Linked DNA regions of Homo sapiens: region 1 is linked to region 2. Evidence: fine-mapped expression QTL. A gene starts in region 2. The other region holds a variant in brackets. All regions are shown on one strand. Distances are from middle to middle.

What was found.
Region 1: its variant is fine-mapped to the expression of NAP1L1 in whole blood (TOPMed, PIP 0.93).

The regions. Positions count from the first base shown.
Region 1 is chr12:76,581,075-76,589,412 of GRCh38, forward strand. All of the region lies in intron 3 of LOC105369850 (a long non-coding RNA gene), which reads left to right. Among named protein-coding and RNA genes, the nearest start is that of OSBPL8, 25 kb to the left of the region's middle. RefSeq lists silencers at 2,931-3,131, 8,081-8,281. The variant T/A (reference allele first, on the strand shown) is at 4,056.
Region 2 is chr12:76,080,944-76,089,281 of GRCh38, forward strand. It overlaps NAP1L1 (nucleosome assembly protein 1 like 1), which reads right to left and starts at 3,742. Exons shown (of 15, transcript NM_004537.7): 1 at 3,624-3,742. LOC124902970 (a long non-coding RNA gene) reads left to right here and starts at 4,142. Exons shown (of 2, transcript XR_007063379.1): 1 at 4,142-4,224; 2 at 5,268-5,790. RefSeq lists silencers at 3,057-3,126, 3,177-3,236, 3,307-3,356, 3,497-3,576, 4,017-4,176 and an enhancer at 3,472-4,013.

The sequences.
Region 1 (8,338 bases), 500 kb after region 2:
GAGAAACCCCGTCTCTACTAAAAAATACAAAATTAGCTGGGTGTGGTGGCGCATGCCTGTAGTCCCAGCTGCTCGGGAGGCTGAGGCAGGAGAATCACTTGTACCCGGGAGGCAGAGGTAGCGGTGAGCCGAGATCGCGCCATTGCACTCCAGCCTGGGCGACAAGAACGAAACTCTGTCTCAAAAAAAAAAAAAAAAAAAGAAAAAGAAAAAAAAATAAGGCTATGCCAGGAAGATCAATTGAGCCCAAGAATTCAAGACCAGCCTGGGCAACATAGAAAGACCCAGTCTCTTAAAAAAATAAAAATAAAAATAGATTAGAAACATCAGACTCAAAATAGTAAAACTCCTAGAAGAAAACGTTAAAAGCTTCATGACTTTGGTCTTGGCAGTGATATTATGGATATGACACCAAATGCACAGGCAACAAAAGCAAAATAAACAATAGTCTGGATGTTCCTCAAAAAACTTAAAGTAGAACTACCATTTATCCAGCAATCTCCCTTCTAGGTCTTTGTCCAAAAGAATTGGAACCAAGATCTTAAAGAGATATTAGTACTCCTATTTTCATTGCAGCACTATTCATAATAACCAAAATGTGGAAATAAACTCAATGTTCATTGACAGATGAATGGATGAAGTGGGCAAATACATACAATAGAATACTATTCAGCCTTTAAAAAGAAGAATTTCTGCAATATGAGACAACATGGATGAACCTTGAGGACATCATGCTAAGTGAAATAAGCTAGTCACAGGAAGATAAATACTGCATGGTTCCACTTTTATGAGATATCTAAAATAATCAAATTCATAGAATCAATGAGTGAAATGGTAGTTTCCAAGGGCTGGGGGAAGGAGGAAATCGGAAGTTACTAATTAATGGGCATAAAGTTTCAGTGAAGCAAGGTAAATAAGCTCTAGAGATCTGCTGTGCAACATTGTACAATTTCAATAATGTATTATTTTCTTAAAAATTTGTTAAGAGAGTCCAGGTGTAGTGGCTCACGCCTGTAATCCCAGCACTTTGGGAGGCTGAGGCGGGCAGATCACGAGGTTAGGAGATCGAGACCATCCTGGCTAACACAGTGAAACCCCGTCTCTACTAAAAAATACAAAAAAAATGCCAGGTGCCTGTAGTCCCAGCTACTTGGGAGGCTGAGGCAGGAGAATCTCTTGAACCTGGGAGGCAGAGGTTGCAGTGAGCTGAGATTGTGCCACTGCACTCCAGCCTGGGTGACAGAGCGAGACTCCGTCTAAAAAAAAAAAAAAAAAATTTGTTAAAAGAGTAAATCTGCCAGGCGCGGTGGCTCATGCCTGTAATCCCAGCACTTTGGGAGGCCGAGGCTAGTGGATCACGAGGTCAGGAGTTCAAGACCATGCTGACCAACATGGTGAAACCCCGTCTCTACTAAAAACACAATAATTAGCTGGGCGTGGTGGCAGGCGCTTGTAGTCCCAGCTATGTGGGAGGCTGAGGCAGGAAAATTGCTTGAACCTGGGAGGCAGAGGTTGCAGTGATCCGAGATCGTGCCACTGCACTCCAGCCTGGGTGACAGAGTGAGACTCTGTCTCAAAAAAAGGAGAGTAGATCTCATGTTAAGTGTTCTTGCCACAAAACATGTTTTAAATATAAAAGGGAGGATAGTGCCTAAATCAAGAAACTTGAATTGACACAACTTATTCCAAAATCCCTGGGAGATTTCTACTTCTTTAAAAAGAAATGTGCTATCTGTAAGGTCACTCTTAGCTGCAAGAGAGACAGGATATTTTTAAGTTTACGTTGTCATCCAAACTTGAATTGGATTTCTGTTACTAAGGAAGAAGCAGAAAATGGATATTAAGCAGGTAATTTGTCATAGTCCATTCATTGGACTGTGAATGGCTTAACACACCATATTGTAAATATATTTTTTGAAATCTGTTTCTTTCCCTAGACTGTAAGATCAGGACTGATTTTTTTAAATGTCTGTATCCCCTCATTTGGCAAAGTATTTTGCACATAGTATATGCTAAGTATTTATACATGATTTGCTATTGAATGTTTCCTGTGGATTAGTTTATTATGAGTAAAAATTAGGAAAACTTTATTACCAGCAAAAAGTAGGGAGGAAGTTAGGAAAAATTATCACTAAAAATGTTAGCATATGTGACTTCTTCTTGATACTTTTAATTTTTGTACTAATTAATTGATTTTTAGTATATCATAAAAACCCTATTTCTTATATAATTATAAGGTAACTTCAGAACATAAAAACTTACAAGAATATCACAAGTATCTTAGTCCATTCATGCTGCTATAACAAAATACCATAGTGTGAGTGGCTTATAAAAAACAGAGATTTATTTTTCAAAGCTCTAGAGGCTAAGAAGTTTAAGATACGATACTGGCAGATGCAGTGTCTGGTAAGGGTCTACTTCCTCATAGACAGCTGTCTTCTCATTCTAACCTCACACGGTGGAAGGGCTGAGGGTTCTCTCTCAGGCCCATTTTATAATGGCAGTAATCTTATTAATGAGGGAAATAACCCTATAATCTAATAATATCCCAAATGCCCCGCCTCCCAATACCATCATTTTGGAGGTGAGGAGTTCAACATTTGAATTTTGGGGGAACATAAACATTCAGACCACAAGAACAATAATTTATTTGTTTATATTAAAAGGAACCATCTTCTCTGCCTCACAGTTTTCCTACCTGGCTCTTAAAATAGAAATATGTTTCTTTCAGAACTATAGAGTCAAGAGGAAATTTCATCTTTCTTTCTGCCACTTTCCCCAAGTGGAAGGAGTTTTGTATTTAATTGGTGATTTGGGGAGAAAAACATAAAACCCAAGCCATTTCTTGCCATCTTTTTCAAATCTTCCCACCCACAAGAAATTATATTCTGCTCAGTTCCTCAATATATGTCATAAACTAAAAACACACGGATTAGGGCCTATGCTTGTCTTCTAGAACAGGCCTGAGGCCTAACTCTCATTCTTTCTACTGTTGATCTCACCAAGCAGAAACAGTGATTCTACACAAGTCTATCCATCGTGCAGACTCAAATTCTCCTGTGGCGAGTCATCACCCATTTGGACTTAGGAAGTATTTGACCAGCTTGGCCAACATGGTGAAACCCCGTCTCTACCAAAAATACAAAAATTAGCTGGGCATGGTGGCAGGTGCCTGTAATCCCAGCTACTCGGGAGGCTGAGGCAGGAGAATTGCTTGAACCCAGGAGGCAGAGGTTGCAGTGAGCTGAGATCACGCCACTGCACTCCAGCCTGGGTGACAGAGTGAGACTCCGTCTAAAAAAAAAAAAAAGAAATATTGAAAAACCTGGTCATGGTTGTATATTATAATACATCCAATCAGCTTTATCTTAGGAAGCTTTTTTGAAATGAAGTCTCACTCTGTCACCCAGGCTGGAGTGCAATGGCATAATATCACTGCTCACTGCAGCCTCTACCTCCTTGGCTCAAGCGATCCTCCTACCTCAGTCTCCCAAGTAGCTGGGACTACAGACATATGCCACATGCCTGGCTAATTTTTCAAACATTTTGTAGAGATGGAGTCTCCCTATGCTAGGCTGATCTTGAACTCCTGGACTCAAGCAACTCTCCCACCTCGGCCTTCTGAAGTGCTGGGCTTATAGTCATGAGCCACCATGCCAAGCCGAGAAGTTGGTATTTTATCTTTTTGGCTTCCTATCAATTGGGTCTGAATTCAGGGAAGAGTTAAGATGTGTGAGCAGCTATCACTGCCTAAGCCCCATTAATGACAGGATAGTAATACATTTTTTAATAGGTAACTCTAACCAAAAGTAGTTGTTTTATGAGAACCTAGGTCTAGCAAAAGAAATAAACTTAAATCTTGCCAGTCTAACAATAAGGGAATAAAATATCCCAGCAGCCAAGTGTGGCAGCTTATGTCTGTAATCCCAGTATCTTGGGAGTCCGACACAGGAGGATTGCTTGAGCCCAGGAGGTCAAGGCTAAAGTGAGCCTTGGTTGTAGCACCATGTTAAAGCCTGGGTGACAGAGTGAGACCCTGTCTCAAAAAAAAAAAA[T/A]TTTTTTTGTTTATTTATGAATGCCTACTGTGTGCAAGGCAGTGTTCAGAGGAGAAGTTTAAAGAGTTAGAATACTAATACTTTAAACAAAAGTTACCTGGTACTCTAATTTTATTGTTTGAGTTTTGAATTGCTATAATGATCAAGGCAAAGAAATATCATAATTATAACATTTGAGTGCTTATGGCTTGTCAAATGAGCAGTTTCCTGCGAAACAATATCTGATTGAATCCTCAAAACAACTCTGTGAGACAATACATGAGAATAGTCTAGGTTGTGCTGCAGTTGGGAGAAAAAGCAAATGTTTAACAAAAAGTTAGCTCTGGCTGCAGGCAACTCTCCAGGCAACTGTCTTCCATGCAACAACGTGATAATCCAGGCAGCTTCAACCTTGTGGTGCTGCCATCTTAAGATGAATCTTTTTCCATGGTTGCCACAGTCGGGAAAGAAAAAAATTTCATATCGACCTTTTACTGCCACATCCTGAAGGTGACACACGTAAAATCTACAGTTTTCACTGGCCAGACCAAGTCACATGGCTCCATTCAGTTGTAGGGTCGCTGAGGAATACAGTCAATCCACTGAGTGGCCAGAAAGGAAAGAGAAGTAAATATTGATTAACAAAGCAATATGTAGCATAAATAGCTATTATGACTGTTGTTTTTATATAGGTGAAGAAATGTAGGCTTAGAAAAATTAAGTTATTCATCCAAAGGTACATATAAGGTAAGTAGGGGAGCCTCAGCATATGGACCTATCTGACTCCAGAGCCTGTGCCTAACTTCTATCTTCCATTACCTCCCAGCACCGCACTGGAAGCCTGGCAGAACCTAGCCACCACTAGGGATATTTAATTCAATTCATATACATTCAGTTCAATTCAAATCAGCATATATTTGCTAAATGCTTTCTCTTTGCCAGGCATTGCAGCTGCATCTGGAGGAGGGTTGAGCTATTTCACCATATAGATCTCCTACGACTTTGAGACTGTGATGTAAAGAAATAGGCAACTGTGATGGTTATTTTATTTGACAACTTGGCTGGGCTGTGGTACCCAGATATTTGGTTAAACGTTATTCTGGATGTTTTGGTGAAGGTGTTTTTGGATGAGATTAACATTTTAACCAGTGGATTTTAAGTAAAGCAGATTACTTTCCATAATATGGACGGGCCTCATCAATCGGTTGAAGGCCTTCATAAATCAAAGACTGACCTCCCCAGAGAAGGAAGGAATTCTGCCAGCAGGTTGCCTTTGGACTCAAGCAGAAACTGAGTCCCCACAATCATGTGTGCCAATTCCTTAAAATAAACATCTATATCTATAATATCTATATGTATACACATTCTGTTGGTTTGGTTTCTCTGGACAACCCTAACTAATATAACAAGCTTAAAAATTAGTTCTATAAAACAGGGCTAAGAAATGATTCTTTATTATACTTTAAGAACAAGATCCTCTGCAATCCCTATTTACTTTTATCTTTGAATGTTAAGTAAAAATAGCAGAATTCTAAAATAACCTACAGAAATAAGTCAAGATTCATTATATTTTCTATAATACAAGAAGTTTTACAAAGCTATTCATCATAAAATACATAAATTTTTGCAAGGAACCTTGTGGACTGAAAAAACAGCCAAAACAAATCTGCCACATACAGGCCCCAGAATGTGGTTTTATAATCTGTCCACTTAGGAAACTGTTCCAATTATCTTCACAAATTCAGTATTGTGAGAATGTGTCTAGGTGTTAATTATCATTTTAGAAGGAAGTCAGCTCTCCTACACAGCTAAGAATGCTAACAGTCTCCAATTTTAACTTGTTCTCTTATACAAGATGCTGTTTTGGGAAGTATTTAGTTGCCCCCTGCTGGCCATACAATTGCAGGATTCATTTTTTAAAAAGTTCTCAGTAGATTGCAGATGATAATGATAAACTTCTGAAGAGATGCATTCAACTTTTTCATCAGATGAATTCACAATAGACTTCCAATGCTCAATTGAGATACGTAAGTTAATAAAAAAAATTTTTTTCCCCACCACCTGGTATAGGGTGAAATGTTCCAGCAGGAAGACTTTAAGCTAGATCAGTGGGAGAACAGGATGAGATGTAGGAGGAGTGACTGAGGGGCTTCACAGGCTCCCTTTCTTCTTTAACTTTTGTTTTAGGTTGAGGAGTACATGTGCACGTTTGTTATATAGGTAAACTCATGTCATGGGGGTTTGTTTTACAGATTATTTCGTTACCCTGGTACTAAGCCTAGTACCCAGAAGTTATTTTTTCTGCTCCTCTCTCTTCTCTCACCCTCCACCCTCAAGTAGGCCCCAGTGTCTGTTTTTCCCCTGTTTGTGTCCATGAGTTCTCATCATTTAGCTCTCACTTATAAGTGAGAACATGCAGTATTTGGTTTTCTGTTCCTGTGTTAGTTTGGTAAGGCTAATGGCCTCCAGCTCAATCCATGTTCCCACAAAAGACATGATCTCATTCTTTTTTATGGCTGCATAGTATTCCATGGTGTCTATGTACCACATTTTCTTTATTCAGTCTACCATTGATGGGCATTTAGACTGATTCCATGTCTTTGCTATTGTGAATAGTGCTGCCCAAAATTCCTAAACACAATTTTCTTTCTATAATACTCATGTCATATTTTATGTCTCTTCATATCCTTTTTAAAACCATATGGAAATAATTTACCAAATTGAGAGGAAAAAAACACTTGTTCAAGAAGCTTAAAAACTATATTTTTATCCTGTCTCTGCTACTAACTCTCAGGCTAATCTTGAGCAAGACTCTTTAACTTTTGGCAGTGATAAATATGTTTACAAATTTTGATTTTCATTCCCGAAAGTTTCTTCATGCTATTTTGTAATTTCTTCTTCCTGCCACTCTTGGGACTTTCCCATCCTCAAGTTACCACTGATCCACTCTCTGTCACTGCAGATTAATTTGCATTTTCTTGATAAGAAAATTATTTTATTTTATTTATTTATTTTTGTTTTGAAACAGAGTTTCGCTCTTTTTGTCCAGGCTGGAGTGCAATGGCGTGATCTCAGCTCACTGCAACCTCTGCCTCCCAGATTCAAGTGACTCTCCTGCCTCAGCCTCCCAAGTAGCTGGGATTACAGGCACGTGCCAACATGCCTGGCTAATTTTGTATTTTTAGTAGAGATGGGGTTTCATCATGTTGGCCAGGCTGGTCTCAAACTCCTGACCTCAGGTGATCTGCTAGCCTCGGCCTCCCAAAGTGCTGCGATTACAGGCATGAGCCACCATGCCTGGCCGAAGAAAATAATTTTTAAGCTTACTAGCTAAGACACTTTATAAAATGAGATATGGAAAAAATGTAAATGCTTTATAAATATTTTTAAAAATTGAGTTTCCCTATCTTGAAACCTGAGGTGCAGTGTGATGCAGTGGTTAAAAGCTTAACCTTGGGGCCAGGCACGGTGGCTCACACCTGTAATCCCAGCACTTTGGGAGACTGAGGCAGATGGATCACCTGAGTTCAGGAGTTCGAGACCAGCCTGGCCAACATGGTGAGACCCCATCTCTACTAAAAATTTAAAAATTAGCCAGGCATGGGGGTGCATGCCTGCAATCTCAACTACTTGGGAGGCTGAGGCAGAATAATTGCTTGAACCTGGGAGACAGAGGTTGCAGTAAGCTTAGATAGCACCACTGGAAAAAAAAAAAAAAAGCAAAAAGCTTAAACTTTTAAGCCAGCAAATGCGGGCCTAGGTCTTGGGTCTTGGCTCTGTTATTTACTAGCTGTATGATGTTGGGCAAGTTACTCAACACCCTGAGGTTAACAGTTTCCCCATGCTTAGAGAAACAGATAATAATAGCATCTATCCTCATAAAGATGTTGTGCAATTGCATACAAAACACTTAGCTCAGTGCTGGGCCTGTACATAAAAAACCTCAGGGTTGACTACCAATGGTAGTCATCTATCTTTAGACATTTCAAAGAGCATCACCTTAATTCTAAGAAAAGGAAATGAGAAATGAGAACCCTGGCCATGCAGCCAGTGCAATCCTAAGGCAATCATTTTAGAAATGTTTTGTGAGGATTATCATAGTTCACTGTGTCAGACATGGTATCCAGCTGACTCTGACTCAAGCCCTTTTCTTAAGCACCCCATTGGTTTTCTTTCCTCATAACTCTTTCTCCAAGTGTCATGGTATCCCTTTCTTTGTAATTCCATTCCTCCCCCTCAAACATATGACCTGACAGTCATCTCATTTCACCTTTGTGATTTGACATATAACTTGGCCAGAGCAG
Region 2 (8,338 bases):
CACACTCAGCCCCCTCCCCATGTGATACCCTGTACTGCCTTGGGAACCTTCAGAGTCTCCACAAGTAAGGTTCTCACCACATGGGTCCCCTCGATCTTGGATTTCTCAGCCTCTATAACTGCAAGAAATAAATTCTTTTTTTTTAAATAAATTACTCAGTTTCAGGTATTCTAAGCAACAGAAAATGAACTAATATTCATGCTGATTTATAGCAGAACAGTGTAAGTCAACATTCTTTCAAAACCAGGATAAAAATTATCTCATCATAAGTTATCACTGCTCACGTACGTAACCACGGACGGGTTATCTAACCACTCCACACCTATTTTTTTTCCTTGTTAAAATGTTGATGCTACCTGTCTCTAAGTAAATTAAATGAGCTAATAATACACACAGAATTTAAAACAATGCCTGAATAATCAATCAGTGTTGCCTATTACATTATTTATCCCTGTTATGCTCTTCTGTACCCTCTTTAGAAAATAATTCCAAGACTGAAATTATAACTCTAGACAGGTGTGGTGGCTCACACCCATACACTCAGCACTTTGGGAGGCCAAGGCAAAATCGCTTGAGGTGAGGCATTTAAGACCAGCCAGGGCAACACAGCAAGAGCCTGTCTCCACAAGGAAAAAATATATATAACCCTGTTTCCCAATAAAAATTAAAATGTACAAAACTTCTGAATAAGTAAAAATATATACAAATATGCAGGAAGTAAAAGGCAGAGTTGGTAACCAAAGGTATAGAAGCCATTTTCTATGGCAAGCCCACTAATGTACTCTAATGTTCTGTAGTCATTGTGCTAAACGACTTACATATGGATAGGTGTAAAGTAACAACTCTCTCCTTCTAACCCCTATTCTGCCCAAAAACTTATTTAGATGAAACTAGTTTGAAATGGAACTTAAAATCATCAAATTATAACAGGTTCCTTTGTGTAAACGCTGTATTACTCTTTGACCCCTTTACCCTTTCCTTCCTTTATAGCTCTCATCACAATTTAACATTCTACATCTAAGCAACCAATTTGCCTCTTTTGCTCATGACATAAGATACATGTCCATACAGGTGCTAGATAGTTACCCAAAGACTAAACTGAGAACACAATTACAGGTTTGATTAAACTTGAAGATCTGAATACACTGATCATTAATATTTTGATATTGATGAGTCATTCTCTCTAATCCTTTGTTTCAAATTTACAACCAAGAAGTGAATAAAATATTGTATTTTGACATCTTCAGACCTTTGAAGTCCAACAGATACTGCTTCTTTAGCCCCTTCTACAAAAAGACCCTTAGTTTTGAATATATTTTGAGAATTTAGAATCAACTCAGTTTTACCAGGAGCCAACAGGAGCAAGCTGAATAAAATGAGATGGCATTTTGGATTACATTAGTTATGGTACAGGTATTCGTTTCAAAAATCTCATTAAAGGCCAAGTGCAGTAATTTACCATATTCAGTATTAGCTTTATAATTCTGCAAATCAATGGGCCTAATATAAAAATAGGCACTTTGTAGCAGATAAAATTTAGAAAGATATTCAAATTGGTATAGTGAAAACTTTTAAATTTCTATTTACTAACATAATGTTGACTTGGAGAATCTATGAAAGTCAGGTTTTATGACAGAAGATGTCCAAGTCCACCTACCAGGGTTTAGTTCCATACATTCTCCAAAGGACAGTATTCTTAGAACTAAACTATAGATTTAGGCCATTTATTTAAACTTGGGCAACTTCAAACAAGCTTGAAACACAAGAGTGCCTTGAAAATAACTGTAAAAGTCATTTACTTCCCTTCGATTTTTAAATGGTACCCTATACATAAAAGGTTTTTCCCTTATTCAATCAAAGGTAATGTATATTACTTCCAAAGTATAGGAGTATTAATTTAAGCTGACCAAAAAAAGAGGACCCAGATACTCGTTTCCAAAGATGTTTTGAATCCACCTATTTTCAAAAGGCCAAATTTCATTTTACAGCTCTTGTGAAACCAGGCAAGCAGTGTAAATTTTAAAATGCAGCAGTGGGATATCTTCAAATGTAGCAGTGAGATTTTTAAAATGTAGTTGTTTCAAAACTGATCAGTGACCGTCTAAAATACGGGCTCCTTGAGGACATCCTGCGCCTGGTTCATCCTTTTTGCACTCTCAAAGTCTAGCCTTCCCAGATGGGACCTCAGTCCCAGCCCCCCTACACTGCCATCCCCCAGATCTTTAGGGCAGTAGGGTTCATTGACAAGGTTGCAGGCTACAAACTTGGCAAAGTTTATACTAACACCTCATTCCATCCCACCTCCCATCTTAAAAAGGAAACCGTTAAGTATCTTATTCTAGTGACTTCAATAAAGGAACTAATTTATAAGACAGCCAAGAACAATTAAAGTCATAAAGGGCCAAACATTTTATTTTCATCTAAGAACCGTTTGCAGGGGTGGTCCGATCTTTTGGCTTCCCTGGGCCACACTAGAACTGTCTTGGGCCACACGTAAAATACATTAACTAGCTGATGAGCTTTTTTTTCCAAAAAAAAAAAAAAAAAAAAAACCTCATGAATTTGTGTTGGGCCACATTTAAAGCCGTCCTGGGCCGCGGGTTGGACAAGCTTGGTTTAGGGGTTTAGATCGATCAGGATCAATACTCCCCAAATAAAAAACCCTGATCAAGACACCCATCTAACAGTACCTGGGAAACACAATAACAACCTTTTGCTAATAACAGTTAATATAAGCGCTATATACGCGTTAACTTTTTAAAATACTAGCAGTGGAGGCCCTTCCTTATCATCAGCTAACATCCACAATCTCTGGTACCAATAAAAAGATTAAGACCAAAGAGAAGCAGGGAAGAGTTTGAAACCCAGGGACAGGGCTTACTCGCTTACCCTTCCTTTTCACATTCCACCGTCTCTACAACTTTCAAAGTAAGCACAGACCGAGGGCAAGGGTCTCCAACCAGGCCCAGCCAGTGGCCATGAAGCCCATTACCACGTGTGGAGCGAAGCCGCCGGGGGTTTCCCCTCCCCGCGCGGCCGCCCCCAATGGGCGGAGAGCCCGGGAGCGTCGCAGCCTCCCCCGCCCCCTCCCCGCCTCGGGGACTCGTCCCTCCACAGCCCCTCCCTCCCGTCGGAATTCGCAGCCTCCGCCGTTCTTTTCATCTCCCAGCGGCCTCCCTCCTGGTATTATTTTTGAGGGAAAAGCAGGGGGGTGTCCAAGAGGCGGCCGGCTCTGCACTCGGCCCGGCCCGTACGCCGGGGGCCTCCCGGTCCTCGCGGCGCAGCCGAGTCTCAGGGCACCCGGGCGTCACCGCGGCCTCGCTCCGGTCCACGCGGAAAAGACGGTGGAGCTCAGAGAACCTTAGGCCTCCAGGCCGCGCCAACCCCTACGTCGCCTCAGCCGTCCCCGATAAAAGCGCTGGTCGGCCCCGGGGCCCCTCTCAGGCTCCGGGGTCCGGACTCCGCGGTCCTGTCCGACCTCACAGGACGACCCCGGAGGCCACGGGCGGCCAGCGGCCCCGACTCCCGGCTCCCAGTCCCTCCATCCCTCCGGCCCTCCCATCTGCGCAGGCCGCCCAGCCAACACCACGTTCCCCCTTCCCTTCCAGGCCCCCATCCGTTACCGGCGACTAGTATGGGGAGCCAGGCGGCCGGAGCTGCGCAGGCAGTGACTCAGGGCGGCAGCGGCAGCAGCAGCGGGAGGAGCAGGAGGCGGCGCCGCGAGCAGATGGCGCTAAAAAAGACCCAAGAGCCCGCCGCTCGCGCTCATATACAATTAGCGTCAGCACGTAGGGCCCTTTCGCCGCCCTCCTCCCGGCCTTGTAGTCTCCCAGCAACGCGAGCGAGAGGCGGGTCCAGGCCGGGTTGCCTAGCAACTGAACCGTCCTCCTTCCCCGGCGACCTCCATACCCCCACCGAGGACTCCTGCAGCCCCGAGGCCCAGGCGCCGCGCTTGGGCTCCTCTGGTTCCCGCCGGTGTCTAACCTCCTCTGTTAAGCACCCCACCATATCTTTTCTCCCTGCTGAGCCGGAAAGGAAATTTCAACCCCATCAGTTGTGGGGAAGGCCTGGCCCGCGTGCCCGGCGCCCGGCCCGCCCCGCCCCCTTCGGCGTTGTGCTGGGAACGCTCAGGGCTGGCGCCAGTCGCCTGGTCCCTCGCTCGCCGCAGCCTAGACGGCGGACGCTCCCTGTCAAGGCCTAATTCCTGCAACTCGCCGGCCCCCGGTAACCGTTTTCCTTCCCCGCCTAAGAAAAACAGTTTTTTCCTCTAGACCACTTCGGCGGCCTCTTCTGACAGTTTTGCTTCTCCTATGCCAGCGGGTCTCCGCGCCTTTAGGGGGTGCTCGTCATCCTTTGCCCCCCAACCCCCCGCCACATCCTCGTAACTGATGTACAGTCCGTCAGTTCGGCTTCAGTTCTTTTGACGGATGAAAATGGCATATTTGTGCATTCTCTGGATGCGTTATAATGAGGACACTCAGTACGTCCGTTGTTTCATCTTTCTGAAAAAGTAAATCACATTAAATCCTCAGGCTTGTAAAACCTCATAGCTAATTTTCAAGTGATGATGAATTGACTAATACTAACTCAAAAAGTTGTTCTCAGAGTATGGTCTGAGGGTCCCCAGACCCTTTCATGGGGAAGGTCAAAACTATTTCCATATTAATGTCAAGACTGCCTTTTGCATTCTCATTCTCTCACAAGTGTACAGTGGGGTTTTCCGGAGGCTACGTGACATGTGATAAGGAAACAGACTGAAAATAGAAGCAGATAGGAGAATCCAGTCATCTGCGGTTAAACCAGACGTTAAAGAGATTTGCAAAAACTCGATTTGGGGGCAAGGGGGAGTAGTTATTTTTCATATAAAAATTATTTTTTGTTAATATTTGATTGCTTTATTGTTTTTAAATGAAATACTCTTAAAATTTCTCACTTTTAATTTCTGATATAAATATCAGTATCAGTAATGCACATAAAAGTTCTTTGGGGTCCTCAACTTTTAAAGGAGTGTAAAGGAATCCTAAGACCACAAAGTTTGAGAACCTCTTCTCTAAATCTTGCATTTATTGAAACTTCAAACTGCCTAGAATCCCCTATTGTAATCCACACATTTAGCAACTTTATCTTCCGTTTTAGGGGATACAATGTTTTCCTTGGCCCTCCAGAACCTCATTGAAATTATTTGCCTTCCCACTCTATACTGCAGACGACTCTGTTTATTCATTCATTTTAGTTTTTCATATACAATTCCTTTGTTGTTCTCATAGCCTATTCCTGTACACCCTTCTCAACAATGATGTAATGATACAAGGAGCATAATAGCATCAATAATGGATCTTCAGGAAGAACCCACTATACATAAACAAGGTAGACCAGTGCTCAGTTTGAACATAAATTTGACACATTAATTTCAATAAGAACTTCAGGAATGTTGCATTTTAATCAAAGCTGTGCACGATGCAAGGTAATTAGCATATTAAAATGAACTAAATAACTTTCACTTTCTTTCCATAAATCTTTATGGTAGCAGAATTTCTGAGACAAAATTGAGAAGTTAGCTTTTGTGGTGGTTTTTATCCCACACCAGAGAGCCTCATCAATTTTCGGCACTTCGCTCATGAAGGCTCTGGATTTTTTAGGTTTCACCACCCCCCCACCAACCCCTATAACTTAGGTGTTATCATTACCAGTACATATGCTCTTTCCCCCTTTTCTCCAGCTTCCTCTTCTTTTTTCAGTGTATCCTAGCCAATCTAAGAAACTAAACAATAAAATATTTCTAATAATGCATGCCTTTGTAATATAGTCTTTTGAACCAGTTTGTAAATCTAAGTCTTTGCCATTAAAGTTCAGGGAAGGGCAGACATTTATGCATTCATTCAACAAATATTTATGTCAGGCACAACTTCGGACTCTGGAAATACAGCATTTAGTAAGAAAGACACGGTTCTTGATTTTATTGAAGTTATGGTCTAGTGAGGTGAGGCAAATGATTAGAGATAAAATAATTTTACTAATAAAATATTAGTAATAAAACAATTTCACTTATCAATAATAAATAATTGATAAGTGAATGCTATAAAGAAAATAAAATGAGAAAAGGGGTAGGAGGTGACTGACCTGAAGATACCTTTGAGCTTTTTTTTTTTTTTTTTTTCGACGGAGTCTCACTCTGTTGCCCAGGCTGGAGTGCAGTGGCGCGATCTCGGCTCACTGCAACTTCTGCCTCCCGGTTTCAAGCAATTGTCCTGCCTCAGCCTCCCGATTAGCTGTGACTACAGGCAGGCGCAACCACGCCCAGCTAGTTTTTTTGTGTTTTTAGTAGAGATGGGGTTTCACCATGCTGGTCAGTCTGGTCTCGAGCTCCTGACCTCAAATGATCCGCCTGCCTCAGCCTCCCAAAGTGCCGGGGTTACAGGTGTGAGCCTCTGCATCCGGCCACCTTTGAGCTTTTTACATTGGCCCCTCTTATACCCCCAAATCACACAATGTAGTTAACTCATCTAACTTAATTGCAATAAATGGTGACCCTGGTCACTGATCTTGGGCCATGCGAAATTTTCTGTTGCAGTTCCTTTTCTCATGCTCTCTTTGGAAGCATATATACTAAAATTAAAGGTCCTTTTTTCTCTATCTCCCATGATTTTCATTTGGTAGACTTTTATAGCATTGTAGCCTGGAGGCTTAGAGGGGTGGCTTTGGAGTCAAACAGCCTATTTTGTCCCCATTTTTCTACCACTTAATAGCTGTGTAACTTTGGATAAGTCAGTTAGCCATCCCAGGTTTCATTTTCCACATCTGTAAAATGGGGAAAATAAGCATGCATTTTTCATAGGGCTGTTGTGAAACTTAAAAAAATTTTTTTTTTTTTAAGTCAAGAGGGATCTTGGTATATTACCCAGGCTGGTCTTGAACTCCTGGACTCAAGAGATCCTCCCACTTCAGCCTCCCAAAGTGTTGGGATTACAGGCATGAGCCACCTTGCCCAGCTGTGAAACTTTTGGAGACAGAGTCTCACTCTGTCACCCAGGCTGAGGTGCAGTGGCGCAATCTCGGCTTACTGCAACCTCTGCCTCCCATGTTCAAACAATTCTTGTGCCTCAGCCTCCCAAGTAGCTGAGACTGCAGGTGCGCGCCACCACATCCCACTAATTTTTTTGTATTTTAGTAGAGATGGGGTTGCACAATGCCCAGGCTGGTCTCAAACTCTTGAGCTCAGACAATCCACCCGCCTCGGCCTCCCAAAGTGCTAGGATTACAGGTGTAAGCCACTGTGCCTGGCTCAGCTGTGAAACTTTAAATAACACATTTAAGTTGCTTAACATAATGCCTGACATATATAGTGACCGCTCAATAAAAGGTAACCATTTTTAACCTCTTACTGAAGTTTTGTTTTTATTTTTGTTTTATTTAAAGGTTTAAGGAACTACCCCGAAGTCTTCTGATAGTGTCTGACACTTTTTGTGACATATTTTATTAAAAGCTATCTAGTCACAGCTTTTAAAAGACATTTTCCTGAGCTGAAATAATCCACACCAATTACCACAAAAATATTATAGTCAACATTTCTCAATATTGGATAAGAACTATGAAGATCAACAAGAAATTTGATGACAAAGATGGTATTTTACCTGTGCTTGTGTCTGTGTTTCAGCCCCTATGTAGTAGAAAAAAAAGCATAGGCTTTAACATCAGACAGGTATAGGCTCCTTCAACACTGTGACCTTGCAAAAGTACTTATCCACTCTGATCTTCAAGCTTCCCTATCTGAAAAATGCATTAATAATTATAATAAAATCTGTGTCTTTATTAGCATGAAATAGAGAAATGTATGTAAGTTCCCAGAGCAATGACTTGCCCTTTAAGTACTCAGTATTTATTTTCTTCCCTCTGAATTAATCTGTAGGTAAAACATCCAAGGGAACTAATAATAATTATCATCTAAAAACTGCACAAGATACATTTAAATAACAGTTACGTTAGTTTCAGATCTGGATTTTTTTTCTACTTTTCCCCAAATTAATTTATAGCTGCAATGTAATCAAATTCCAAGTGGAAAATTATGGATAAGATGCCTTACATTTTTCTCTCTACATTCAAAAAAAAGGATTAATAGTTTTTTTGTTTAAAAAAAAAATCTTTTTTTTTTTTGAGACGTAGTTTTGCTCTTGCTGACCAGGCTGGAGTGCAATGGTGCGATCTCGGCTCACTGCAACCTCTACCTCTGGGGTTCAAGCGATTCTCCTGCCTCAGCCTCCCAAGTAGTAGCTGGGATTACAGGCATGCACCACCACGCCTGGCTAATTTTGTATTTTTAGTAGAGACGGGGTTTCTCCAC